Regions from separate parts of the Homo sapiens genome. Here all the other regions are linked to region 5. Evidence: fine-mapped expression QTL. A gene starts in region 5. Each other region holds a variant in brackets. All regions are shown on one strand. Distances are from middle to middle.

Region 1 (5,000 bases), 83 kb before region 5:
CCAGAACAGCAGCCATTCCTGCTCCTGCCTGCCCTGACGCCACTGTCCCATGAGACCAGAACCAGCGGTCCAGGTTTTGTGGCAGGGCAGTTCTGAAGTAGTTGGAGGACGCAAGCTGCTCTGACAGGAAGCCCCAGCCTCAGGAGTCGCACCCAGAGGGCTCTGCCTCAGAACAGTCAGATGGGGACTCTCATTCTGCTGTTCCCCGCAGAGGAACCCCAGTACACGGCTCTCCCCCCGGGAGGCTCTGTTGTCCAGCACACCTGCTCCCAGGTGCCCTGGGCTGACACCCGCTCAAGCCAGCACATGGGAGGAGCAGGTGGAAGTGGCCCACGGCTGTCTTGCCTTGCGGCCTGAAAGGTGCCTCCCCATCCTGCTCTCAAATTACCGCCAGGAAGCCACACTTGTCCACACCTAAACATGCGGGAGGCTGGGAGTGGAACCCAGTGGCTGGAGGAGGACCAGGCATGGGCTTGGGAATCAGCCACCTGTAGGAGGTGGAGGTGGAGGCGAGCCTTACTCTATGGGTTCCTGGAGTGGAGACGTTTGCTGCTGTGTTCCCTTTGAGAAAGCGCCCCTGCGAGTTCACCACAACTTTGCCTGGAACTCACGGACTCCCCTCTCTCTTCCCTCACCGGTGACCCCATTGGTCACGATTCCACGTGCCTGTCCTGAGGCCTCACTACCTAGAAAAAGGCCAGCTGGGAACATGGCCAGCCAAGGGGAGAGCCCTTGCTTTCTATCCCCAGATTGCTCCTGGGAAGATAACAGTTTCAGAAGCACCTTTTGGCGAAGAAATTTTCAATGACATTGCATTGTTAACTTATATCGGAAACATTCAGATGTTTTGTAATTGTCATTGAAGAAAGGACTGACCTTTGCAGAGGGGAGGCTGGAAATCCCATCCTTCCTGGGTGCAAGTGAGCTGCTCCCGGCCTTGGAGCTCATACCCGTGCCGGCAGGAATACACCAGCACGCGCCTCCCAGACTCCTCACAGTGCACAAAGTCCCCATTCTCCACGCTCTCTGGGAAGCCACACTTGTCGTCTATGAAATGTGGACAGGTTGACATGTAGTCAAACTACGAGAAAAGAAAACCACACACCAACGTCCCTGTCACGGGTGCGCTTGTGCCCTGGAGGGGCTGGTGCCAGGGCCGGGGAGCCCTGCTGTGGTCACTCACTGAGCACCCACGCAGCACACACGGCCTCTTCCCAGATCGGGCCCCGCGGGCTCCCTTTCTCTAGGCCTCCAGTTCCTTTCTCACTAGAGAAGGGCCCCGCCCCGCCCCGCCCCGCCCCAGGAGCTGCCCTGAGGGTGTAAGGCAGGGCGTTGACACTATTTTCTAAACAGTGAAAAGTTAAAATCAGCTCCTGGGGAAGATAAGCTTTGTTTGATGAGATGCACGTGCTGTAACGTGGTGTGAGAGGAGACCGAACTTCACCTTGAGGAAAGGTTTCCCTCCAGGCCTCCAGGTTCATGCCAGTGATGCTGTCACAAGACTCAAAGTCTTCGGGGAATTTGCCGACTTGGAAGGCATCCATGGGCACCCTGGTGAGGCCAGTGTTGTCACAGATGACCCGAGACAGGGAGTGCTTCTCCAGCTCACGCCTCTGTGCATCCGTGAAGACGTGGCTGTTCTCCCACCAAAACCTCCAGAGAAGGAGACAGTGAGTAAGGTCACAGTGCATGGAGAACCCCCAGGGCAGGCACTCAAGACCAGCTGCCCACAGCTGTGTGCTGCCAGCCTCTCCTGCGGCGTCTGCCCAGACCCCCAGCACCCGGGGCCACACAGGTGCAGGCGCTGAGGACCTGAAGGAGACCCTGTGGCGTCTGCCCAGACCCCCAGCACCCGGGACCACTCAGGTGCAGGCACTGAGGACCTGAAGGAGACCCTGTGGCGTCTGCCCAGACCCCTGAGCACCCGGGACCACTCAGGTGCAGGTACTGAGGACCCGAAGGAGATGTGGAGGGGCAGCACAGCGTGCACCTGGCTGTCTGAACGAGCGGCCTCAGAAGAGGGGCTCAGAGCCACTTTGCTTGTTGACTATGAGCATCTATTTTGCTGCATTGCTGTTATCTGGGGTGTATTGCTGTGTTAAAAACAAGAATGATGACAGCAAATCCAGCTATTTTAGAGGGTGCTCCTATTCTGAAGTCAACGTGCCCTGCACAGTCTCTCTACCTTCAGCTTCTTCCTCCAGGCCATGATTAATCAGAAAAATTGCAATGTGAAGAAATGAAGT[C/T]CCACTTTCCTCTCAAAATATGAAAATAGTTGCCAAAGCCCCAATAGCTCCTGGCCTGAATGCCGTAAAGCATGCATCTCCCATGTGCATCTCCCCTGCCACGTAAAACTCTTCTGCTTCCCATCACAGGGATGAATTCCTCTTAGAACATGAAAAAGAGGCCCCACTATACGTAAGTTAATTGATCCCATTTTTGCATTGGGGAGATATGTGGTCATAAATACATAGGATGAGAAATTGGGGGCACCACCCTAGGAACCTGCCAGCTGCCTCTGCACTGATTTCAGATGGCGCTTCAGCCACAGGTGGCATAAAACACGCATGGGAGACACACGTATGGGGCAAGCTGGTGAAATCTTCCCCCTTCTGAGCGAGTGGCTTCCCATGTCCCAGAGAATTCCAAACCGCACGTTTGCTGAAGACACAGCTATAAGGGAGACAAGTTCTCCTGGTGATTTCTACCCAGGTGTTCGTAGCTCTTTGAAAGGCTGCATCTCAGAAATTAGAGATAAAAGTCACACTGGGGAAAGGACAGGAGCCCCAGCGTGTGGCAGGTGCACTCTCTGGGAAGAACACAGATCCTTTACAACAAAAATCTGACCTCGGCACAGTGACTACCAAAAATAGAGAGAGAATTGGATAGGTAGGGATGTATTTAAAAGCAAAAGAAAACATTTTCCTATTGCTTTTGTCTGTGTTGTTCCAAAATCCTAACACTGGTATCCTGCGCACCTGCTTCTACGGGGGGCATGCACTCAGAGTCAGATGGGAACAGGATCTGCCTCTGACTCCCTCCAGTACAAACCTCCAAATTCTAGGTTGAACTTGAGGAGGGAGCAGACATGCATGAGGCAGGCAAAGCGGGACCTCAGCTTTCTGCTACCGGCAACCATCTGCTATCTGTAGGTGGGGTCTGGGGGGCCGGGAAGTCCTGTCCAGCCTAGAGGCATCCATGAGCACCGGGCATGGCCTGTGTCTGCGCCTGAGTCACTGTCCACCTCTGCGCTTTCCCGGGCATTGTCATGGGACGTGAGGGATGGGATGCAGTCTCCGGGCTGTCACGATTGTGTCACAATTTGTTTAGTTAGGTGCCTGCTTGCTCGTGTGGTTGGATCTAGGAAAAATCAGTGCTAGCTCCCATTCTAAGTGCTACGTGCTTCGTAGTTGCTTCATTGTTATAAAAACACTGTTCTAGGTTAAAGAAGCTGTGGGTGGGAGAAACAACCTGACCAGGCTTACGTAAGAGTTGAATGGTGGAGCCGGAATGTGAATGCAGGTCTGGCTGGCTTCAGAACCAACGCAGACCACCTGCCTCTGTGCAGAACGTGAAGGAAGACGCTCTGGATAGGAACGTACCAGTCACCGTCCCGCAGAGCCTTCATCTGCTTCCCAATGAGACAGGCAAACAGGGGCCCTGTCCGAGCCCTGGGGAGGAAGTTTTCAGCTAAGCCTCCCAGCCAGACATCGATGTTGTCAGGATGCTTGTACAAGTCCAGGATCTTGTCGGCCACGCTCCTGCTGGCGATGGCTGTGCTCAGGTCAGCGGGGGTCTCCAGGCGAGGCAGGCCGCAGAACTCCCTCCACTCATTGTAACCTGCACAGGGGAGAGGCTGCAGGGTTTCTCTCACAGAACTGAACTTTTGTTCAGCCCATCTCACTCATGCCATGGTCCCCGAGACTGGAAGCGCAGCAGGGCAGAGTCCTGTCCCACCCTGTGACACTGCCTGGCAGTTTGCCAGGCTAGGATATTCCAGCTCCGACGCCCGGCAGAGTCCTGTCCCACCCTGTGACACTGCCCGGCAGTTTGCCAGGCTAGGATATTCCAGCTCGGATGCCGGGCAGAGTCCTGTCCCACCCTGTGACACTGCCCAGCAGTTTGCCAGGCTAGGATATTCCAGCTCAGATGCCGGGCAGAGTCCTGTCCCACCCTGTGACACTGCCCGGCAGTTTGCCAGGCTAGAATGTTCCAGCTCGGACGCCAGAGCTCTTTTTGCAGGTTTGTTCATAAAGGAGCTGGAGACAGCAAGAATGCTGAGTCCGTGACATCTAAGTGCATTCCTGTTATTGCCCAGCCTGCACTTAGTTCTTGCCTCTACAGGGCAACTGACACAGCTCTGCATCCTCTTCAGAGTTTGCCTCCCACAATGACATCAGGAGCACACACAGAAGCCAGCACCCCCCCCCCCACCCACTCACACACACACACACAAATATCTTTATCTGTCTGGCCACTCATCTCCATATTGAAGACTGGAGATCTTTTCTTCCTGGGAGCCCTGGTGAATCCCTGGCCTCTCTTCTCACTCCTCCTCCTGCTCACTGACCCACGCCTCAGCTGCTCCCTGCCCAGGCCCCCGTCCATGGTCTGACTCTGTGGCTGCGCCTTTGCCTGACACTCGTGCCCCTCCCTGTGCCCCACTCCTCACATCTGCCTTCGTCCCTCATCCACTCCTCTTGGTTCAGCTGTCACCTCCTCCAGAAGTGCTCCCTCCTCAAGGATGGGCGACCCTCACTCCCACGGGTTCTGATCAGAGCGCCGCCCAGGGCCTCTGCTACTGTCTCTACTCATCCACCCGCCCTGTGTGGTGCTTTAGCTAAGACTGTCTGGTTCTACTCTCAGCGCCCTGCCCACCACAGGCTCCCAGCAGAAGTCCTGGACAAGCACACGCACAGCAACATGTGAGCACTGGGCTGGTTCCCCCCAGGGACAGTGAGGCTTTCATGGGACAGAAGGTTGGGCCTCTTGGTGTCTCA
Region 2 (5,000 bases), 110 kb before region 5:
ACAGTGGGGGGATGTGGGGGTTTGCTCACAGTGGGTGAGATTTGGTTGGGTTGCACACAGTGCGGGGATTTGAGGAATGTTGCACACAGTGGGGGATTTGTGCTTTTGCTCACAGTGGGGGAGATCTGGGGGGGTTGCACACAGTGGGGAGATTTGAGGAGGTTGCACATAGTGGGAGGATTTGAGGAGGTTCCTCACATTGGGGGGATTTGAGGAGGTTGCACGCAGTGGGGTATTTGAGGAGGTTGCACGCAGTGGGGGGATTTGAGGAGGTTGCTCACATTGGGGGGATTTGAGGAGGTTGCACGCAGTGGGGGGATTTGAGGAGGTTGAACACAGTGGGGGGGATTTGAGGAGGTTGCACACAGTATGGGGATTTGAGGAGGTTGCATACAGTGTGTGGGATTTTGGGAGGTTGCACAGAGTGGGGGGGATTTGGGGAGGTTGCCCAGAGTGGGAGAAATTTGGTGAGGTTGCACACAGTGGCGGGATTTTGTGTGGTTGCCCACAATTGGGTGGGATTTGGGGAGGTTGCACAGATTGGGGGGGGATTTGGGGAGTCTGCAGAGAGTAGGGGTGACTTGGAGAGGTTGCACAGAGTGGTGGGGATGTGAGGAGGTTGCACACAGTTGGTATTTGGGGAAGCTGAACACAGTTGGAGGGATTTAGGGAAGTTGCACACACTGGGAGGATTTGGGGAGGTCGCACACAGATGGGGGGATTTGAGGAGGTTGCACACAGTGGGGTATTTGAGGAGGTTGCTCACAGTGGCGGAGGATTTGAGGAGGTTGCACACAGTGGGGGGGATTTGGGGTGGTTGCACACAGTGCGGGGATTTGGGGAGGTTGCTCACGGGGGGTATTTTGGGAGGTTACACAGTGAGGGGATTTGGGGAGGTTACACAGTGAGGGGATTTGGGGAGGTTGCTCACAGTGGGGGTTTTGGGGAGGTTGCACACAGTGGGGGGATTTGAGTAGGTTGCATATAGTTGGGGGATTTGGGGCGGTTGCACACAGTGGGAGGGATAGGGGAGGTTGCACAGAGTGGGGGGATTTGAGGAGGTTGCACACAGTGGGGGTATTTGCGGAGGTTGCAGAAAGTGGGGGGATTTGGGGAGGTGGCACACAGTGAGGGGATTTGAGGAGGTTGCTCACAGTGGGGGGATTTGAGGAGGTTGCACACAGTGGGGGGGATTTGAGGAGGTTGCACACAGTGTGGGGATTTGAGTAGGTTGCACAGAGTGTGGGGGATTTGTGGAGGTTGCACAGAGTGGAGGGGATTTGGGGAGGTTGCACACACCGGGGGATTTTGTGACATTGCCCACAAAGCAGGGGATTTGGGGAGGTTGCACAGAGTGGGGAGGATTTGGGGAGGTTGCATAGATTGGGGGGGATTTGGGGAGGTTGCATAGATTGGGGGGGATTTGGGGAGGTTGCACAGAGTGGTGGGGATTTGAGGATGTTGCACACATTAGGTGGGATTTGGGGAGGTTGCATACAGTGGGGGGGGGATTTGGGGAGGATGAACACAGTTTGGGGGATTTAGGGAAGTTGCACACACTGGGGAGATTTGGGGAGGTTGCACAGAGTTGGGGGGATTTGTGGAGGTTGCTCACAGTGGCGTGGGATTTGAGAAGGTTGCACACAGTGAGAGGATTTGAGGAGGTTGCGAACACTGGGAGGATTTGCGGGGGTTGCACACAGTGGCGGACTTGAGGTTGCACACAGTGGAGGGGATTTGGGGAGGTTGCACACAGTTGGGGGATTTGAGGTTTCACACAGCATGTTGATTTGGGGGGGTTGCTCACATTGGGGGGCATTTGGGGGGTTGCACACAGTGGGGGGAATTGAGGTTGCACACACTGGGGGGATTTGTGGTTTTGCTCACAGTGGGGGAGATGTGGGGTGTTTGCACACTGTGGGGGGACTGGGGTGGTTGCTCACAGTGGGGGGGACTTGGGGGTGTTGCACACATCGGGGGGATTTGAGGAGGTTGCACACAGTGGGGGGATTTGAGGAGGTTGCACACAGTGGGGGGATTTGGAGGTTTGCACATGGAGGGATGGGGGAGGTTGCACAGAGTCGGGGGGATTTGGGGAGGTTGCGCACAGTGGGAGGATTTGGGGAGGTTGCGCACAGTGGGGGGATTTGGGGAGGTTGCACACAGTGGGCGGATTTGGGGAGGTTGCACACAGTGGGGGATTTGGGGAGGTTGCTCACAGTGGGGAGATTTGGGAAGGTTGTAAACAGTCGGGGGATATGAGGAGGTTGCGCACAGTGGGGGGATTTGAGGAGGTTGCACACAGTATTGGGATTTGAGGAGTTTGCACACATTGTGGGGGATTTTGGGAGGTTGCACAGAGTGGGGGGCATTTGGGTAGGTTGCACACGGGGAAATTTGGTGAGGTTGCACACAGTGGCGGGATTTAGTGTGGTTGCCCACAGTGGGGTGAGATTTGGGGAGTTTGCAGAGTGGGGGTGATTTGGGGAGTTTGCACAGAGTCGGGGGGATTTGGGGGAGGTTGCACATAGTGGGTGGGATTTTGGGGCTTGCACACATTGGGGGGATTTGAGGAGGTTGCACACAGTGGGGGGATTTGTGGTTTTGGTCATAGGGAGATTTGGGGGGTTTGCACACAGTGGGGGGATTTTGGGAGGTTACACACAGTGGGGGGATTTGAGGAGGTTGTACCCAGTGGGGGTTTTGGGGGTTTGCTCACAGTGGGGGAAATTTGGGGGTGTTGCAAACAGTGGGGGGTTTTGGGGAGGTTGCACACAGTGGGGGGATTTGAGGAAGTTGCACACATTGGGGGGATTTGTGGTTTTGCTCACAGTGGGGGAGATTTGGTGGAGTTGCACATAGTGAGGGGATTTGAGGAGGCACACAGTGGGGGG[GA/A]TTTGAGGAGGTTCCACAGAGTAGGGGATTTGAGGAGGTTGCACCCAGTGTGAGGGATTTGGGGAGGTTGCACACAGTGAGGGGATTTGAGCAGGTTGCACAGTGGGGGGACTTGGGCGGATTGCACACAGTGGGGGACTTGAGGAGGTTGCACACAGTGAGGGTGATTTGGGGAGGTTGCACACAGTTTGGGGATTTGAGCAGGTTGCACACAGTAGGGGGATTTGGGGGGGTTGCACACAGTGGGAGGGATAGGGGGAGGTTGCACAGAGTTGGGGGATTTGGCGAGGTTGCTCAGAGTTGGGTGGATTTGGGGAGGTTGCACACACTGGGGGGATTTGGGGAGGTTGCACAGAGTCGGGATTTGAGGAGGTTGCACACAGCGGGGGAGATTTGAGGAGGTTGTACAGTGCGGGCAATTTGAGGAGGTTACATCACAGTGGGGGGATTTGGGGAGGTTGCTCAGAATGTGGGGATTTGGGGAAGTGGCACACAGTTGGGGGATTTGAGGAGGCTGCTCATAGTGGGGCGATTTGGGGAGGTTGCTCACAGTGAGTAGAGTTGTAAAGGTTGCACACACTGGGGGGAATGTGGGGAGTTTGCACACAGTGGGGGGATTTGGGGAGGTTGCCCACAGTGGGGGGATTTGAGGAGGTTGCAGGCAGTAGGGGGATTTGAGGAGGTTGCACACAGTGAGCGGATTTGAGGAGGTTACACACAGTAGGGGGATTGGGGGGGTTGCACACAGTGGGGGACCTGAGGTTGCACACAGTGGGTGGGATTTGGGGAGGCTGCACACAGTGGGAGGATTTGAGGAGGTTGCACACAGTGGGTGGGATTTGGGGGGTTGCACACAGTGGGGGGATTTGGGGGGGTTGCACACAATGGGAGGGAAAGTTGGAGGTTGCACAGAGTGGGGGGGATTTGGGGAGGTTGAACAGAGTGGAGGGATTTGGGGAGGTTGCTTACAGTAGGGGGATTTGGGGTGGTTGCACACAGTGTGGGGATTTGAGGAGGTTGCTCACTGTGAGGAGATTTGAGGAGGTTGCACACAGTGGGGGGATTTGAGGAGGTTGCACACAGTGGGGTGGATTTGAGGAGGTTGCACACAGGATGGGGATTTGAGGAGGTTGCACACAGTTTGGGGGATTTTGGGAGGTTGCACAGAGTTGGGGGTATTTGGGGAGGTTGCACGGAGTGGGGGGAATTTGGTGAGGTTGCACACAGTGGCAGGATTTGGTGTTGTTGCCCACAATGGGGGGGATTTGGGAAGGTTGCACAGAGTGGGGGGGATTTGGTGAGTTTGCAGAGAGTAGGGGGGATTTGGGGAAGTTGCACAGAGTGGGGGGATTTGGGAAGGTTGCACACAGTAGGGGGGATTTGGGGAGGTTGATTACAGTTGGGGGGATTTAAGCAAGTTGTACACACTGGGGGGATTTGGGGAGCTCACACACAGTTGGGGGGATTTGAGGAGTTTGCTCACAGTGGGGGGATTTGGGGAGGTTGCACACAGTGAGGGGATTAGAAGAGGTTGCACACAGTGGCGGTATTTGGGGGGGTTGCACACAGTGGGGGACCTGAGGAGGTTGCACACAGTGGGGGGGATTTGGGGAGGCTGCACACAGTGGGGTGATTCGAGGAGGTTGAACACAGTGGGGGGTGATTTGAGGAGGTTGCTCACAGTAGGGGGATTTGAGGAGTTTGCACACAGTGTGGGGGATTTGGGGAGGTTGCACAGAGTGGTGGGGATTTGGGGAGGTTGCTCAGAGTGGGGGGGATTTGGGGAGGTTGCATAGAGTCGGGGGGATTTGGGGAGTTTGCATAGAGTGGGAGGGAACTGAGGAGGTTGCACACAGTGGGGGTAATTTGGGGAGGTTGCACAGAGTGGGAGGGATTTGGGGTGTTTGCACACAATGGGAGGTATTTGGGGAGGTTGAACACAGTGGGGGGATTTAGGGAAGTTGCACACAGTGGGGGGATTTGGGGAGGTTGCTCACAGTGGGGGGATTTGGGGAGGTTGCTCACAGTGGGGGGATTTGGGGAGGTTTTACACAGTGGGGGGATTTGGGGAGGTTGCTCAAAGTGGGGGGATTTGGGAGGTTGCA
Region 3 (5,000 bases), 71 kb before region 5:
CAAGGGACTATAAATCATGCTGCTATAAAGACACATGCACACGTATGTTTATTGCAGCACTATTTAAAATAGCAAAGACTTGGAACCAACCCAAATGTCCATCAGTGCTAGACTGGATTAAGAAAATGTGGCACATATACACCAAGGAATACTATGCAGCCATAAAAAAACGATGAGTTCATGTCCTTTTCAGGGACATGGATGCAGCTGGAAACCATCATTCTGAGCAAACTATCGCAAGGACAGAAAACCAAACACCGCATGTTCTCACTCATAGGTGGGAATTGAACAATGAGAACACATGGACACAGGGCGGGGATCATCATATCCCGTCTGTCGTGGGGTGGGGGTCAGGGGGAGGGATAGCATTAGGAGAAATACCTAATGTAAATTACGAGTTAATGGGTACAGCAAACCAACATGGCACATGTATACCCTACGTAACAAACCTGCACGTTGTGCACATGTACCCTAGAACTTAAAATATAATTTAAAAAAATTAAAAAAAGAAGGAAGAGTTCATGGGGACCAGCTGCAGGGACCGCACTCACTCACCTCCACGGAGTAATGTCCATGGGCTGAAGAAAGCCTGGTGCAGCCACAGCCCGGGCAGGTCGGGGTGCTCCTGGAAGCTGGCGTCCAGCCTCCTCACCAGCGGGTGGATCGTGGCATGGCCGAAGCGGAAGGCGGCTGTGGAGAACACGTTGGACACAGTGGGGTTGGCGGTGGAGTCATAGCCTTCATAGGGACCCACGTACTGCTGGAAGGCCTCGGGTCCCAGGATCCTGGGGATGTAATCCCTCAGGGTGATGATCTGTGCAGATAGGAAAAGCATCTCAGTGAGGCCCAGGATACCAGAGGAGGGTCGCCTCGAGCGGCAGTGTGGAAGAGCATCTTCCTTGACAGCCCCAGGGAACTGGACCCTTCTCGTCTTGTAATAAGGGCCTCAGCTGAACTTCCCAGAAATGCCTTCTTGCTGATTTTTTCATGGATATTCAGGAGGTGCGTTTATAGGGCTGACTAGAGAGCCTCCTTCCCAGGATGGTGATGGGGCTGGCAGTGGCAAGAGACAGCACCTCTGTCGAGCCAACAATGGCCACCGGGCCAGGCTGGGCAGCTAGACTCCTGGCTGGATGATTGACAGTGGGGAGCAGTTCCTTTTTCTACAAAGCAACAATAATACCTAATTCCCAGAGCCTTTGTGAGGATTAAATCAAAGCATGTTGTATGGCAGAGAGCTCTGTCGATGGAAAATTACAGTTGCAATCACAGGGCCTGGAAATTACGATTTGATACATGGTCCCAGGAGAATTATGTACCAAGATTCTACTTTCAGGTTTAACAGTGTTTCTTTCAGACAGAAAAATCAGTGTCAAGTTGTTTTGGTATTTAAGGGGAATATTTTGGTCAATAAACTGCATCCAAATGAAGCATAATAGGAATAATTCTAGAATATGAATCTTCTCTTTTAGCTTACCAGTTTAGGAAGGCAAGTGGATTGTTTAAAAATAACCAATATTATTTACACACTTGTAATATGTTTCTTCCATGTGCCAGAATGCATTTCCTAAGCACGTAATTTGGCCCTTCAGGGAGACCAGGGAGAGCCGTGAGTCTTGTGTGGCCTGGGCCTTCACTGAAGGTGCACCTGCCCTCGCTGTCCCGCTCCACCTCGGAGACCTGGACAGACAAGGAGGAAAAGGCAGCATCCAAATGTTTCCCAGTGGGGTTTCCGTCCCTGTGCTAGTTCATCCATTGGTGCCAAGCACTGTGCTATGGGTCAGCATCCCAGAGAGCAGTTGCACGACTTCATCGTGCAAACAGCCTCTCCACCTCAGGTGCAATTTATGTGGCAACGTTTCTGAACCACACAGGTGTCCAAGGGGCTCCTCCTAACCGCGTGAGAAGGTCCGTGTGCTTCCCACATTCAGAACTCAGGCAGCACCTTCTGTTCCCTGGAACATTCTTTGGTTTCTTCTCACTACAATAGAAAGGAAAAGGCCTCTCTCTTTTTAGCCCAGGGACTGAGACAATTTCAAATTCAAGTGCAAGCTATTTTAAGGAAGACACCTCTTCCCCTTCTTGCCTGCCTGAAGTTTGACTTGTGAGCCAGGGGATGCAGCAAGCACAGGCAGAGAACTGAGGCCTGAGCCTCAGGTTCAGCAGCTCCACCTGTGCCCGGCTAGCTGTTAACAGAGAGGAAACCTGCGCCCTTCATCAGAGCCTCACAGACACTGTACTTCCTCAGTGTCTGATCTTGCCAGAGCTCTGAACAGTGTGTCTCTCCTCTTCCCCACTGCCTCCTCATCTGATCTGAAACATCCCTGGTAAGTGATTGGCTCAGATACTGCAGCCTCCCCTGGGAGCCGTCGAGGTTGGGCAGAAGCACCCATTGTTCTGACCAATGGGGCCTTAAAACTTGAATCTTGAGTCAGGCGCAGTGGCTTGCGCCTGTAATCCCAGCACTTTGGGAGGCCAAAGTGGGAGGATTGCTTGAGCCCAAGATCAAGACCAGCCTGGGCAACACAGTCAGACTCTGTTTCTACAAAAAAATTTAAAAAATTAAAAATTAGCCAGGTGTGGTGGTGTACACCTGTAGTCCCAGCTACTTGGGTGGCTGAGGTGGAGGATTGCTTGAGCCCAGGAGGTTGAGGCTGCAGTGAGCTATGATTGTACCACCGCACTTCCGCCTAGGTGATAGAGGAGATGCTTTCTCAAAAAGAGAAAAAGAAAACACTTGAACCTTGTAAACAGCTCTCTGGAATTTTCATGGCAATTCTTCTGGAAATGCTTCTGGTATTTCTTTACCTGGTCGCATGGGGGAAATGGTTACTCTGAACTATTGGACCTGGGCAGACGCCATACTGTGAGACCGGGGCATCGTCGCTGTCAGGTGCCCCTCCTGCTCACCTCCCAGGTGGGCCATGTCTTCTTCCTCTGCTGGCGGT[G/A]CCATGTAGAGGCCTCATCTTCCCAGGCTGCTTCAAGCTGCTCCTCCACGTCTGCTCTCACCCCAGCCTCCTGGTTCCCCACAGCCTCTGCCAAAGCCACCAGGTGCTGACTTGTGGCCACTCTCCATTTCTTTGCCTTCACAACTCACCAGTGGGAATGACTGAAAGGTCCACACTTGGGAAAATGATGGGCGTGAAGGTGACGGGAAGCCAGGACCCCAGCACACGGGGAGACCAGGACGAAGAGACCTGGAGATGCGATCCTTGTCACCGACGGTGGGAAACAGCCGCGTAGCCCCTGGCACAGGCTCCTCTGAACTTTCTGACTCTCGACTGCTTTCAAAGTCACCTACCCTGCTCTACGCAGAACATCACTCAGCATTTTCTCAAACATGCCCTATTAGTCCAATAAGAGGCTCCCATATGCTTGCTGAGGGTGCTCCAGGGAGGAGGCTGAGCAGGCACCCAGCTCCCCAAGGACGTGACACAGCCAGGCCTGGCTTGTGCTCCTCCGCAGGAAGCCCTGCAGCATGGCGCACCTGGGCTTGGTCCAGCCTTGAGGTAGGGGCCTGGCTGTCCCTGCAGGGCAGGGAACAGCCTCCACAGCTACCCCTGGAGAGGAACGACCAGGAGACTTTGTCAGCCAACATTGGAGGCCACTGGGGGATGGGGCCCTGCAGATAAAGGGGCCTGGGTGGGGCAGCAACAGCACCCACTGCAGGAACGGCCCTTTCTCTTTCTTTCCAGCCTTGGAAGCATGACTTTATCCATCTGCTCCTTTGCTCTGGAAGAGCAACCAATCTGAAAAAGTACTCAGCTACAGCAAAGGTCAGCAGCCGAGTGGCCCAGGGATGCAGCCCCTGCCCCGAGACATGGATCTGCCTGCCCGGGATGGGGATGTCCAGGGAGATCTGCAGTCCCTCCGGGGTCTGGTTCTACCTCCACACACATCCAAAGCAAAGCTTCTGTGGGTCCCTGGATATCTGGGGAAATCAAGGCTGTGCTCCAGAAATAGGTCTGCTATCTGATGGCCGGGGCATAGAAAACATCCACGCCAGATATTTGGGATGTCTTTATCTTTTCACCCTGTGGAACCCAAACTCCATGCTGCCTGGATGGCACACCCAGACTCCCCGAGGATGGCTACCTCCTCTCTGCCTCCCTCACACCTGTGCTGGGAAGGGTTTCCTTTCTCATTCTTTTCTTGTCTGTAGAACACAAAAGTTATCACCAAAGTGAGCAACTGATTGTGAGTTCTTGTCTTATGACACACCTAAAGCAGCTAGGGTTTTCTGGGATTGAAGAGCAAGAGCTTCAGTTCCTCCTGGTGGGAAGCAGGGCTTATGGATCCAGGGTCCTGTGGGATCTCAAGCCAGCAAGAGCAACTTTATCAGCCCTTCCTACGTGCGAGTCCCCCGAGAGATGCCGGATCCCAGGAACCAGCACAGAGGGCGGCCCTGCAGATCCCTCCCAAACATGCCCACAGCAGAAGTCCTGTGGCCCAGGGCTGAGGGAGGGGATAGCTCTCAGCTTTCGACAAAAGAAATTAGAGGAGCCAAGATCCTCAGAGTGGGGGCGGCTGTGGTTGGGCCCTGACAAATTAGAGTGGGTATGGTGAGGACAGACGCAGCAGCAGGGACGTGGTGTGGACGGATGCAGCAGGAGGAAGGTGGTGTGGACGGATGCAGGAGGAGGGAGGTGGTGTGGACGGATGCAGCAGGAGAAACATGGTTTGGACGGATGAAGGAGGAGGGAGGTGGTGTGGACAGATGGAGGAGAAAGCTGTGACTCCCGGCTCTGAGATGACCTTTCCTGTCTCTTGCTGATGTGTGCATTAGCCTGGCCCTGGCTGGCTCGTGTGTGTGTGTGTGTGTGTGTGTGTGTGTGTGTGTGTGTGTGTGTAGGGGGTTTGAGGGGTGATAGAGGGGGGGATGCTATTTCTCTTTCATAAGGTTGCCCTGGCATCTCTTTTCATTATCTAATGTTTTTCAGAAGAAGAGAGATTCAGATTACAAAGTTACCAAACTACGAGTCGGTAGAACCAGGGAGAGA
Region 4 (6,248 bases), 240 kb after region 5:
AATAAATTTACATTTGACAGTCACGCTTCCACTCTAAATTTCTATAAATTTATTTCTGATGAATAGGTATCTTGTCATCCATATCCCAGAACAGAAATGTGAATAGTTATATCTTTCTTCTATCACAAATAAAAGTCCATTATTTTTTAAAACCCAATATCAAGAATTCTTAATGAGAAAAATAGACTTAGTTTATTTTTATTAGGTGTCAAAAATAAACAATCATATTAGAAAACATGTAGTATATGATCAATGTTTATTAAAACACCTAATCTTAAAAAAAATTAACCCTAACCTATCAAAACTGCTTAGATTACCCTCAGGCAATGCTGGTTGGAATGTAAAATGGTGCGGCTGCTGTGGAAAATAATTTGGCAGCCACTCAAAAAGTTGAGCCTAGAGTCACCAGAGGACCCAGCAATTCCAGTAGTCGGCATCCACTCGGTGGGAAGGAAAACATCTCCCAAGAAAAACGCATTCACGGATGCTCATGGTGGTATAATTCACAATATCCCCCAAACAGAAGCAAGACAAATGCCCATCAGCTGATGAATGGATAAACAAAACCCATACAAAGGGTATGTACATGGGTCCGTATACACAGATATATTCCCTAGGACGGATGCTGTTCAGCTAAGAGAATGCAGCACCGATGCCCGCGACATTGGGGGCGGACTCTGAAACTACACTGGGGGAAGATGCCAGACACAAAGGCATCTTTGTGCGGGATTCCATTACAGAAAACGTCCGGCGCAGACGGAGATCCTCATTCCAGGTCGGATGCCACGGGGTTTGAGCCACCAGCAGATGTTGACTTCAGGGGAGCCTGGGCCTGGCCTTCAAGGCCCTTCCTGATTACCCACAAAGAGACAGGAAGGAAATTCCCGGCTGCCGAGGGCTGGGGTGGGGAGAGTCCGGGCTGACTAACTGGCACAGGGTTTATTTTTGGGATGAGGGAAATGTTTTGGAATTAGACAGTAGCAATGCCTCTACAACGTAGTGAAATATTTAAAACTGCTGAAGTGTTACTTTAAAACGGTGAATTTTCTGTTGCATGAATTGTATCTTTATAAAAAGACCAAGAGCCTGACTTGTGAAAAATAAAACCCTACTTTGACTCAGTCTCAAACGGTTGTTTATTTTCTCTTTGATAAACGTTTTAAAATGTGGAAACTGGACATTTTCCGCACAGATCTGCCGTGATACTCTCTTTCCCCACTCACTGGAGCTGCTCGGTGGATTTCTGCTTCATGCAGTCAGAAAGTGAAGTCTGCTCAGGCACAGCAATTTTACCTTCACGGTGTGAATTCAGCAGAGGACGTTTCGCCTGAATTTATAGAGAGATTATGGCTGTCTTGCTTAAATTGTTATGGATACTAAGATTTTAACATTTTTCACTGTAAAGAATGAAATAAAAGGAGAATAGACACTTATTGAATTAATGGGGACTCAGCACCCCTGGCCTCTGTGATCTGCACCCCAGGCTGCCCTTTCCTGCATGTGCCCGAGGACGTGTGGGGTGGTCCGTGTAGCTGGGCCTGTCCAGGCAGAGCCATCAGAGTCAGCACAGCCCCGCTCAGGATGCCGGCAGCAACGCTCATTGAAGTCACTATGTGACTGGCAATGGACCCCGGAGCCTGCAGGTTTTAGTGGAGCCCACGGACAGAAGTCAGGATGTGAATCTCAACAGAGACAGCCTCCGGCCCCACAGGCTCAGGCACTAGAATTGCAAGAGCTGCCCATCCTCAGAGGGAAACACAGGCTCAGTGCTATGGGGCTCTAGGCAGGGGCTCACGGTGAAAACCTCCACCTGGGGCACTTCCTCTGCCATCTGGTGTTGCAGTGTTGCTGCTGCTGTTGCTTAAATTCTGCTCCTTCAAAGGCACCCAGGGAAGCTGGCTTAGACGCAGCACCCATCTCACTCGGCCTGTGAAGTCACCTTGCCTGAGAGAGAAGTCAGGAACGGCCCCAGGGTGAGTGTCCTCTGCCTCCCACCCCCACTTAGCAACATCCGAAAGCACCCCCTGCTTTCTGTCTGTCTCCTCCTTTATCAATGCCACCTCCTCCTGTCCAAGCCACTATCTTCTCTTCTTTTCTTTCTGGCAAAAATCTATGAAAAGTCTTAGTTTCTTCCTTCGTGAGCCTGTATGGTCACAGCTGCTGCAGAATCTGCAGACACTCACGCTGCCCCCTCACAAGTGAGTCCTCCTCCCCCATCCGAGCTCACTGCTGGGCCTCCTGATGTGCGTCTGACACCTGAGTCTCCCTGCTGGCTCCAAGAACTTCTGTGCAGCCCTCAAGTCCACCCCCTTCCCAACTCACAGCAACGTTTCTCAAAACCCCAGGGGTGCACCACTGTGCCGCGTGTGACATTTCGCTCCCTTAAACCTTTGCCCCATTGCTAACATGTTCTGCCTCTACGGCCCTGGGAATATTCGCCTTTCTCATGCACAGCCCCTCAGCACCCCTTACTCTTTTTCCTCAAGAACCCTCTAGGTCTTCATTCATGCTCCCGTGGCTCCTTCTAGCAGAGGGAGTGGTCTCTGAGGATGGCAAGGCATGCAGTGAATCTTACTGATCCAGGTTTGCTACAATGGCAGGAAGATCGATTTTCCTAAGATTGTGAATAGCATAGTTATCCTGCTGTGATCGATGGGAAAAATGGAGTTGCTGAAATGGATTTGTTCCTGGTTGCTCAGGAAGATGAAAGCAGAAGTCATGCTATGAGTCTAATGATGCTTTTGATCAAATGCTGAAACAGGAAAAGTTCACTTGTTCCCCTTGCAGGGCTTGTGATGGGGGAGTGGCTCGCTTCTTCGGTGCCCCACTACTCAAACCTCTGGCGGGGGTGCCATAGAGATGGGCCGGCTTTGGGGCTCTGACCCCTGGCAGCATCTAGGGGTGGATGTTTCCAGCTCCTGAAGCCCTAGTGGGAGTGTGTTCCAGGG[C/T]GCTCTGTTAGTTCTGCCGTCTGTGGGCGGCCTGTAGGCTTCAGTTCTGCCGTCTGTGGGCGGCTTCTAGGCTTCAGTTCTGCCGTCTGTGGGCGGCCTGTAGGCTTCAGTTCTGCCGTCTGTGGGCGGCCTGTAGGCTTCAGTTCTGCCGTCTGTGGGCAGCTTCTAGGCTTCAGTTCTGCCATCTGTGGGCGGCTTGTAGGTTTCAGTTCTGCCGTCTGTGGGCGGCCTGTAGGCTTCAGTACTGCCGTCTGTGGGCGGCCTGTAGGTTTCAGTTCTGCCGTCTGTGGGCGGCCTGTAGGTTTCAGTTCTGCCGTCTGTGGGCGGCTTCTAGGCTTCAGTTCTGCCGTCTGTGGGCGGCCTGTAGGCTTCAGTTCTGCCGTCTGTGGGCGGCTTGTAGGCTTCAGTTCTGCCGTCTGTGGGCGGCTTCTAGGCTTCAGTTCTGCCGTCTGTGGGCGGCCTGTAGGTTTCAGTTCTGCCGTCTGTGGGCGGCCTGTAGGCTTCAGTTCTGTCGTCTGTGGGCGGCCTGTAGGCTTCAGTTCTGCCGTCTGTGGGCGGCCTGTAGGCTTCAGTTCTGCCGTCTGTGGGCGGCTTCTAGGCTTCAGTTCTGCCGTCTGTGGGCGGCTTCTAGGCTTCAGTTCTGCCGTCTGTGGGCGGCTTCTAGGCTTCAGTTCTGCCGTCTGTGGGCGGCTTCTAGGCTTCAGTTCTGCCGTCTGTGGGCGGCTTGTAGGCTTCAGTTCTGCCGTCTGTGGGCGGCTTCTAGGCTTCAGTTCTGCCGTCTGTGGGCGGCCTGTAGGTTTCAGTTCTGCCGTCTGTGGGCGGCCTGTAGGTTTCAGTTCTGCCGTCTGTGGGCGGCTTCTAGGCTTCAGTTCTGCCGTCTGTGGGCGGCTTGTAGGCTTCAGTTCTGACGTCTGTGGGCGGCTTCTAGGCTTCAGTTCTGCCGTCTGTGGGCGGCCTGTAGGTTTCAGTTCTGCCATCCGTGGGCGGCCTGTAGGCTTCAGTTCTGCCGTCTGTGGGCGGCCTATAGGCTTCAGTTCTGCCGTCTGTGGGTGGCTTCTAGGCTTCAGTTCTGCCGTCTGTGGGCGGCTTGTTGGTTTCAGTTCTGTCGTCTGTGGGTGGCTTGTAGGCTTCAGTTCCGCCATCTGTGGGCGGCCTGTAGGTTTCAGTTCTGCCATCCGTGGGTGGCTTGTAGGCTTCAGTTCTGCTGTCTGTGGGTGGCCTATGTTAATCAGCTCAATTAGACCCTCTGCCTTATCGCAAGGACAGAAGGCTTTCTGTATCCCGGGGTTCTTGCCTTAGCATACCAGAAGAATCAGATCCCACGTGAGCTTGGAGGGTTGGCACAAGGTTTTATGGAGTGTTGGTAGCTCTCAGAAGATGGATGGAGAGCCAGAAGGGGCATGGAGTGGCAAGGTGGTTTTCTCCTGGAGTCTCGTCCAACCACCCCAGCCAAACTCCACATCATTCTGCCAGTCGATAGCCTGCCAGTGTCTGCTGGTGCCTGTCAGCATACTCTTCCGCTCCTCTGCTCTTCTCCACATCCGGCCACTTGTGTCTCTGCCCACTAGGGTCTTGGGGTTGTTATAGGCATAGGATGGGGGCGTGGTAGGCCAGGGTGGTACTGGAAAACGCAACATTTGGGTGCAAGAACAGGAGTGCCTGTCCTCACTTAGGTCCATGGGCACAGGCCTGGGGGTGCAGCCCTCGCCAGGGACCCGCCCTTCTCCTCCCAGCACTTCCCTGCCCCCCTCCTGTATCAGTGAAAAACCCAATGCATGATCAGAACTCAACTACTGATGTGCCTGAGAGCTACAGCCGGGCCACTCGGGGCAGGAGAGAAGGAAGGCATTGACAATAGGGACATCAATGGAAGAGAGAGAGAAAGTAAAACAGTCAATATGAACCCCCAGGGAGGGAAGCTGTTCCTTCCCATGAGAGAGTGACAGGAAGGACAGCCCACCAGCCCCCATGAGAAGGAACCCGACTGTCGGCTCAGCGGGAGGTCCTCATTCCACATCGGATGCCCTGGGGTTTGAGCCACCAGCAGATGTTGACTTCAGGGGAGCCTGGGCCTTGCCTTCGAGGCCTTTCCCGATTACCCACAAAGAGAGGGCAGTGATGCCCTCTGCTAAATCAAAGGAACGGTGGTGACTCCAACCTTTATAAAGCCATGACAGCTGAATAACATTAGTAAAAGTTACAACAACTATCTTCACTAAAACATTTTTCTAGATTTAGGGTTCATCACTTTCATATTGGGTCACAATTCAAGTATAATAGAGGATTACAAGCTTTGTGCCAAAATATGTCAGGGACTTCATAGCATAAATGTACCATTATTTTCATTTTTTGCACTGAAAATTTCTCAGATCAACATAGGTATTTTACGTGTAAACTTTGCTTCTACGTTAACATATAGATAAATACAATCATGGTGAGTTTGCATGAAGGAACGAGCATGTAGTTAAGTGACGAGAAGCACAGTCGAGAAGCACGGTCTGATAACACTTCCTTCAAAAAAGCCCGTGGATGTGTTAAAACATACAACGTCATGGGACTACATGATGCCACGGTGCCTGCCTATACTTTTCTTCTCTCTGAATGTACACTCAGCAAATGATTAATATCCCAGTCCATGTGGTAGCATTTGGATAAATAATGTGGCAAGAAAGGAATTTCTCCAGCACCCTGGCATTTCTCCTCTTCCCACTTACCTAACGGGAGCTTCAGAAATGCCGGCGCTTCCCTGAGATACTCAACGGTGATGGTAACTTCATCGCCAGCATTTCTCAGCAGATGCACCTGTCAATATGACAAAAATAGCTACTTTTACCACCACAAAAGAACCAGACACAGAATTAAAAAATAAAATCTCTCTACCTCTCCTGTTTCCCAAGAATTCAAAGTTCATAGTTACCTCTGAAACACGGAAAACTTTGTGGGCTTCAGCTGGAGTAAAGAAGAGTGGTTATCACCTCCGAGACCACCTACCCCCCACACTCTATCTGCGTAAACAAGTGCATGAGTGAGCAGGGGTCTGCCCGTATCATCCACAACACATCACAGGGATGCTCTCTGCATCCCTATGAATGCAATCTACCAGAAAATAATACCCTCGGAGAAATCAGTTTGTTACTACAAACAGCCTGTGTTCAGTCACTGGCAAAACATGGATTAACTGTGGCAAAACAAACCACAAATACTAATTTAAATATTTAAATGATGCTTTAGTTCTCAGGAAATTAGTGGCTATCACTTCAAAAGGATGGAACTTAGCTCTGTGCTGGAGTTTCAAATTAT
Region 5 (6,173 bases):
CCGGTGAGCTGTCACCTGCTCCAGGGGCCCCGAGACTGTGTCCAGAGGCCCAGGGACCTGCCCGGCGAAGTGTCACCTGCTCCAGGGGCCCCGGGACTGTGTGCAGAGGCCCAGGGACCTGCCCAGTGAGGTGTCACCTGCTCCAGGGGCCCCGGGACTGTGTCCAGAGGCCCAGGGACCTGCCCGGTGAGGTGTCACCTGCTCCAGGGGCCCCGGGACTGTGTGCAGAGGCCCAGGGACCTGCCCGGCGAGGTGTCACCTGCTCCAGGGGCCCTGGGACTGTGTCCAGAGGCCCAGGGACCTGCCCGGCGAGGTGTCACCTGCTCCAGGGGCCCCGGGACTGTGTGCAGAGGCCCAGGGACCTGCCCAGCGAGGTGTCACCTGCTCCCGGGGCCAGCGGTGTCCATGGGGTAAAATGTCCAGGCAAATGCCCCTGCAGTATTCACTCCAGTGAAACTTGTTCTCAGGGTTTGGAACTTTATTTATTTTATTAAAAGAAAAGCAAAGAGCTTGATCTGTGATTATTTTAACCACTGCATCTCAGTAGCTTTCTTAACTTGTTTTCACATAGTAGCACACTGATTCCAGAAAATACATCACAGAAGTTATTTAATAAAAAATAATTCTGTAGCAAAGGAAGAAAAACACTCCCAAAGAATTTTTTTTTCAGTTATATGAATAGGTAAAAGTGAAAATTGTCTATTGTGTCATCCAAGGAAAATCAGCTCTTTTTTAAAGAAAGAAATGTACATATTTCAATCCTTCTAAAATCAAGAATTACAATTTTTTTTTCTTAAGCATAACAAAGCATACACTACAGGGGCCTAAAGTGACTCTCAGGAGCTACCATTATGCCCTCTATTTTAGTAAGTGTGAAAAATAACTTTATAAGGCCAGAAGACCGCAATGTGTTTGCTACTTACCCCAAAGGAGTTCTTTCCCTCTCGAGATGAAGGGGAAGAAGGCTTCTGTGCAGGCCATAACCAGCGTGACAGACAGCACAGCGAGCGCTCTCATTCTAAAATTAACGGAAGGAGACAGAGTATGTAATCAAGCACTGACAAGGCCATGGGAACCGCTGTGTCCTTGTCTCCCTGCTGAGGGGCTCCCTCCACTGACTCCACGCAGCCTCTACCGCAGTGAGCGACCCTCACAGGCCTGGGGTCTGCGAGACCAGAGTCGCCGTCCATGTCAGGAGGTTACAGAAACTGCAGCGCTGAGCAGGCCTCCCAGGCCCCCATTATTCAAAAACAGAGTTTTTATGTTGGCAGCTCCAGTTGCCAATATATCTCAGTAATAACCTATTTAAATTTTTGGTAATGTCAAATAGTGTAACAGTACTGGGAATAATTATTGGGAATGAAAAAAATCTGTTTCCCCTAATGCATCTATGTGGCAAAAAGTGAGTACTATTAGAAATTTAGTCTTTATAAAAGTGATAAATAAAACCCCTAAATGCCTATTGAATTTCTTAAAGCATTCTTATGTCCATAAAATGATTTTAGAATTCTAGTTGTTAAGACAAAACAGAAGATTCAAAATTCATCATTTCTACTTTCAAATCCTTGTTTTCTTCTCTTAGGCTTTCTGTGGCTATTTTTGAGCCACTAATTTTGTTAAGCAGGATAGCACCAGTGAGTCCATGCTGACAGGAATGTGTCTCAGTAGACGGTGATCTAGGAATCGACCCTACAGGACTCACATGTTCCAGCGGAGGTCATTGCAAACAGCACTCATCAGTCAGTCAGTCAGCTTTGCTGAGAGACGCCACCCATACCTGCTATAATGGCCCAAATTACAGCCACTCTTGGGCCACTTTACAAGTTCCAATGATGAATTTCTCTTAGAAAATGGAAAAATAAAAAGCTTTACAACCTGACCTTTTTTCCTCTTCTCAGCCAACTGCACTGCTGAGTAATTTTCACGGCTGTAACTCTTCTGAAATGGGCGCCTTAATTGCCTTCCAGGGACTTGGTTACCCACCTTATAAACTGACTCCGCGCTTGGATAGCCCGTCAAGATGCTAGGAAGTCGAGTGGCGTCCGTTCTTCGTGGGGACAGAATGTCTGCGGGCTTTGTTGTGTTTGCGCCGGGCCTCTTGTGTGTCCTGACTGGTCAGAAACAAAGTGCCATGTCATCGGGGTCCACATGCAGTCCAGCCTCTGGCCGAATGAGTTAGGAAGAAGAGGGGAAAAATTATACAGGGAGAAAGAATAAACCAACTAAATCCAGACTTGTGACACTTGCATTTTCCTCCCTCTTACTTTCACAGTTAAATACCCTGTGAAAAAGGGGCTGTTAATCTTCCGAGGATTGGGTTGGGTGCAGCTCCCAGGCCCACCGATGACTCGCTCTACAACTCTGAGCCTTTTGCTTCCTGTCCCCAAGCCCCTAGTTTTCTTATCACTAAGAGGTGAATAAAGTACACTTTTTTCCAATTTGTTGAGGTGAAAAATGAGCACAGTTCAGTGTGTGTTCACCAGCATGCATTCTCCCCTCAATCCTCATCATGCACCCATCAAAAGAGTCCCCACAAAGACAGAGATGTTCTGTAGGAAGGTCACCATGACTGCATTCCGAACACTGGGAGATGACATGTTTTCATGGGTGATCTGCTTTCAGGCTGTATCTCATCATGAAAATGATAAAATAACACATCTTCAATGACCTGCTCCTGAGACTTGGAGCCTCTTCATGCCCCCGGAAGTCCTATGGGTTTCTAGTTTGTGAAAATCATCTTCATCTTTCTCCTTTTCTTTCCCTTCTCCAAATGTGACTGATGCTTCCTCTAGGTAATTTGAAACCAAATGCTAAAACACGATGCAAAGGCTTCAGAACATTAATCTTTGTTAGAAGATGTTCTGAAGCCCAAGAATGTGATGATTTGCCTTTAACATTCTCCCCTCAATCCTCATCACTCACCCCTCAAATGGGTGAAGATAACAAATGAGTTAGACAAGCTCTGAAGAGCAGGGAGGAGATCAGCCAACAGTGATATAATCCCCCCACGCACCCTGAGAATGGTCACTAGGAGGGTGGGGTTTGGATAGAGAGGAAGGACCAGACTCGGTGGCTCATTAAAGAGGATTCCATGGCTCAATGATGAGTTACTGTTGGGAACAGAAGAAAAGCACAGAGCCTCTGAGGATTCAGCCATCCTCGGTTTGATGCCTAAGCAAGTGAAAATCTCATGTACTGGCCCTAGGAAGGCCAGAGAAGAAAGGAGACTGGCTGTGACAAGCAAAGGAGCAGCAGACTCAGGCTTGGAATTGTGTTGGAGGTGCCCGTGGCACAGGCGGGCAGTGAGCTCTTGGGCATTTGGAAATGTACTTTCAGCTGTTGGGTGAAGTCCAGCTTAAAAAGACACATTTGGGAGTCCTGAGGGGGGATACAGTAGTGGACTGTGAGTGAATGGGATTCTTCTTGGGAGAATGTGGATGGAAAAGACCTCAAGAGTAGCTCAGAGCACCAGCGTCTAGGGGACACAGTCCCCCAGCCTGTGACTGCAACCTGCATGGCAAAAGGGGCTTTGCAGATGGGATTCAGTTAAGATTTTGAGGAGGGGAGATTAGCCTGGATTATCCACTGGCCTTAGTGTTAGCACACAGCTCCTTACAAGACAAAGGTGGGAAAGTCTGAGGGGAGAAAGGGGGAAGTGATGATGGAAACTGAGACTGGAGGGCCGTGGCCATGAGCCTCCAGAAACTGGAGGAGGCCAGGAGCAGGGCCTCTGGGGTCTCCAGGCACAACCAGGCCTGTCCCTGGACCTTGCTGCCAAAAGTCTCATTTGGATCTATGACCTCCGGAGCTGATGGAGTAAAGCCACTAAGCACGTGGCCCTTTGTTAAGGCATTCGCAGGAAATTCACACAGCCAGAAAGGTGGGTGGTAAAATGAGACAGCGTGGGGCAAATACTCAAGGAAGAGTTTGAAGAAGAAAGCATTAAAATGTAAAGTAAATACTGACTGGATGCTCTTTTCATCACAGAAGGACGCTTGAAAATGCCGAGTGCCGATGGAGACCTGGGAAGAGGGGGTTTGCATGCACAGCTGGGGGAGGCCGAGCCGGCACATCAACTCTCCAGGTCGTTTTGTAGCCTCTCCTCTAAGTTGCTGTTACCATTTGACCCCGCACAAATATGAGAAATGTATCTATCATTTGAAAATACATATTTTAGCTGGATTACATGATGTGCTTATTTTAATACTAATTAAACAATATAAATAATGCATCAAGTACAATGGAAGCTGTTACACTGGAAATGTTGAGAGGGGAGCGGAGAAAAGTCTGAGAATGGCGGGTTTGCAGGAGGCCCACTGGATAGCACACACATTTTTGAGAAAGAAGACGGGGGACTTGGGAAGGAAGATTTCTGCAGGGGGACGTGGAAAACCCGAGGCTATCACATAATGGGAGAATGAAAGAGAGGCAACTAAAGATCTGGCTGAAGCCCCCAGTCTCTGTCAGAAAGGAGCATTGGGAAGACGTGGCCACCCAGCAATGGAGAGCAGAGAGATTGCAGGGGAGACTCAGTGAGAAAGAGGACAGTTTTAGCCATGAGAAGGAAAGAAAAAAATACACGTCTTCTCCCATTATGAGAAAAATCAAGGAGCTCCAAAGAAGACAGAAATCTGCAAGGAACGCATGATACAGTAAGAAGCCAACTCACACATGGCAGGATGGGGGAATGCAGGGCCCTGCTACAAGCAGGTCTCAGTGAAGGAGTGGCACCAGCCCTGCGGTCCAGTCCCGGGCCCACCGAGAAGACAAGCACGCTTCCATTTTTTGGCAAGTGCCAATGAACTATTTGATATCCTGGGGAAATCTGATTACTGAATACCTTGATCAATGCATGAGAAACAGCAAATCACACATTTTGCTTGATGTCTCCATAGAAAGGCCACCTTTCTCCCTGCAGACATCGTGTGTTCTGTCCACAGACAAGAGGCTCTCCCTAACCGAGGCCCAGGACCACCTGTAATAGGCCCTTGCCTGTGACTGTAACAGAAAAGGGATCCAGGGTGGGCTCACACTTGACTCACCTGACATGTGGCCAGGGCCTGACTGCCTTGTGTTCTTCAAACTACAGCCTGATGTTGCCTTTTTTACTTGCCATTCACTTTTTAGTTTTTGTTTTCCTCGCCCCCAGCTTCATCAAGCTATCATTAACAAATACAAATTATACATATTTATGTTCACATGATGTTTTCATACATGTAAACACTGTGGGGTGATTAAATCAAGCTAATTAACATATACAGCACCTCACGTATTCATCCTTTTGTGTGTGTGATAGGAACATTTAATATCTATTCTCCTAGCGATTTTCAAATAAACAATAGTCATCAAGCTATACATTAGATCCCAGAACATTTTTATCCTGCAACTGAAACCCTCACTTTTGACCAGCATCTTTCTGCCCCTCACGGCACCTGTCCCCCCCATGGCACCAGCCCCCACCACACCTGCCCCCCACCGCACCTGCCCCGTAACCCTAGGTGTCCACCATCCACTCTCTGCTTCCATGAGCTCGACACTTTTAGATTCCATATAGGAGGGAGATCATGAGGTGTTTGTCTTTTGGTGCCTGGCTTGTGTGTGTATGTGCACGTGCATGTGTGTGTGTGTGTGCGCGCACTGTTTTTTGTATTTTTAAATTTGTAAGTTTATTTTTTAAGAGATGAACATGGATGAGAGGAGACTCAGGGACCTGATGACCCCCGACGGCCGTGGGCTGCACAGTGCCAGGACTGGATCCTGGAAGAGGAAAGGATGCAGATGGAAAAGCTGGGGATACCAGGGTGAGCTCTGAGATGTAATCACCAGCATTGGATCCACGTCCACTCCCTGGTCCTGGTTGCTGTGCTGTGGCCGTGCATAGAGTTAACACTGAGCAGGTGGGTGAAGGAGGTTTGGGAGCTCTGTGTTATCTTCCAACTCTTATTACAGCTCAATTCATTTTAAAACAAATTTGGAAAATAAAATGCTGTCATTCAAACTTAATTAAATTCCCCTGTAAAATTTGAAAAATTATTCAGCTTTGTTCAAACTCAGGTAGGTAATTTCCCAGTTTATATGAGTCAGATAAAACTAAAGACAAATACAGGAGGGTTTTTGTTAATTGAAATTCAGGAAATAAACATGGGGCTCTCTCACACCACAAAAAGCTCCAC

Direction of the effects. Positions count from the first base shown, and alleles are read on the strand shown. Sizes are in standard deviations (SD) of each study's normalised expression. Not every link is listed here.
With allele G in place of A in region 3, the expression in skeletal muscle of the gene that starts at base 1,963 in region 5 is higher (small effect, 0.29 SD a copy in GTEx).

Evidence for each region. PIP is the estimated chance that this variant, and not a neighbour inherited with it, causes the effect.
Region 1: its variant is the best candidate, but not a certain one, in a credible set for the expression of TPO in T cells (TOPMed, PIP 0.80).
Region 2: its variant is the best candidate, but not a certain one, in a credible set for the expression of TPO in thyroid (GTEx, PIP 0.77).
Region 3: its variant is the best candidate, but not a certain one, in a credible set for the expression of TPO in skeletal muscle (GTEx, PIP 0.82).
Region 4: its variant is the best candidate, but not a certain one, in a credible set for the expression of TPO in tibial nerve (GTEx, PIP 0.51).

The regions. Positions count from the first base shown.
Region 1 is chr2:1,492,642-1,497,641 of GRCh38, reverse strand. TPO (thyroid peroxidase) reads right to left here. Exons shown (of 17, transcript NM_001206744.2): 11 at 3,603-3,840; 12 at 1,445-1,653; 13 at 877-1,047. The region is part of intron 6 of LALTOP (lung cancer associated lncRNA targeting TOP2A); the gene reads left to right. Among named protein-coding and RNA genes, the nearest start is that of TPO, 82 kb to the right of the region's middle. RefSeq lists an enhancer at 1,020-1,655. The variant C/T (reference allele first, on the strand shown) is at 2,247.
Region 2 is chr2:1,523,199-1,528,198 of GRCh38, reverse strand. All of the region lies in intron 15 of TPO (thyroid peroxidase), which reads right to left. The region is part of intron 6 of LALTOP (lung cancer associated lncRNA targeting TOP2A); the gene reads left to right. Among named protein-coding and RNA genes, the nearest start is that of LALTOP, 100 kb to the left of the region's middle. The variant GA/A (reference allele first, on the strand shown) is at 2,895.
Region 3 is chr2:1,480,410-1,485,409 of GRCh38, reverse strand. TPO (thyroid peroxidase) reads right to left here. Exons shown (of 17, transcript NM_001206744.2): 9 at 556-814. LALTOP (lung cancer associated lncRNA targeting TOP2A) reads left to right here. Exons shown (of 7, transcript NR_198949.1): 7 at 1-508. Among named protein-coding and RNA genes, the nearest start is that of TPO, 69 kb to the right of the region's middle. The variant G/A (reference allele first, on the strand shown) is at 2,949.
Region 4 is chr2:1,165,050-1,171,297 of GRCh38, reverse strand. SNTG2 (syntrophin gamma 2) reads right to left here. Exons shown (of 17, transcript NM_018968.4): 7 at 5,663-5,750. Among named protein-coding and RNA genes, the nearest start is that of SNTG2-AS1, 220 kb to the right of the region's middle. The variant C/T (reference allele first, on the strand shown) is at 2,949.
Region 5 is chr2:1,409,253-1,415,425 of GRCh38, reverse strand. It overlaps TPO (thyroid peroxidase), which reads right to left and starts at 1,963. Exons shown (of 17, transcript NM_001206744.2): 1 at 1,881-1,963; 2 at 924-1,018. The coding sequence starts at 1,017.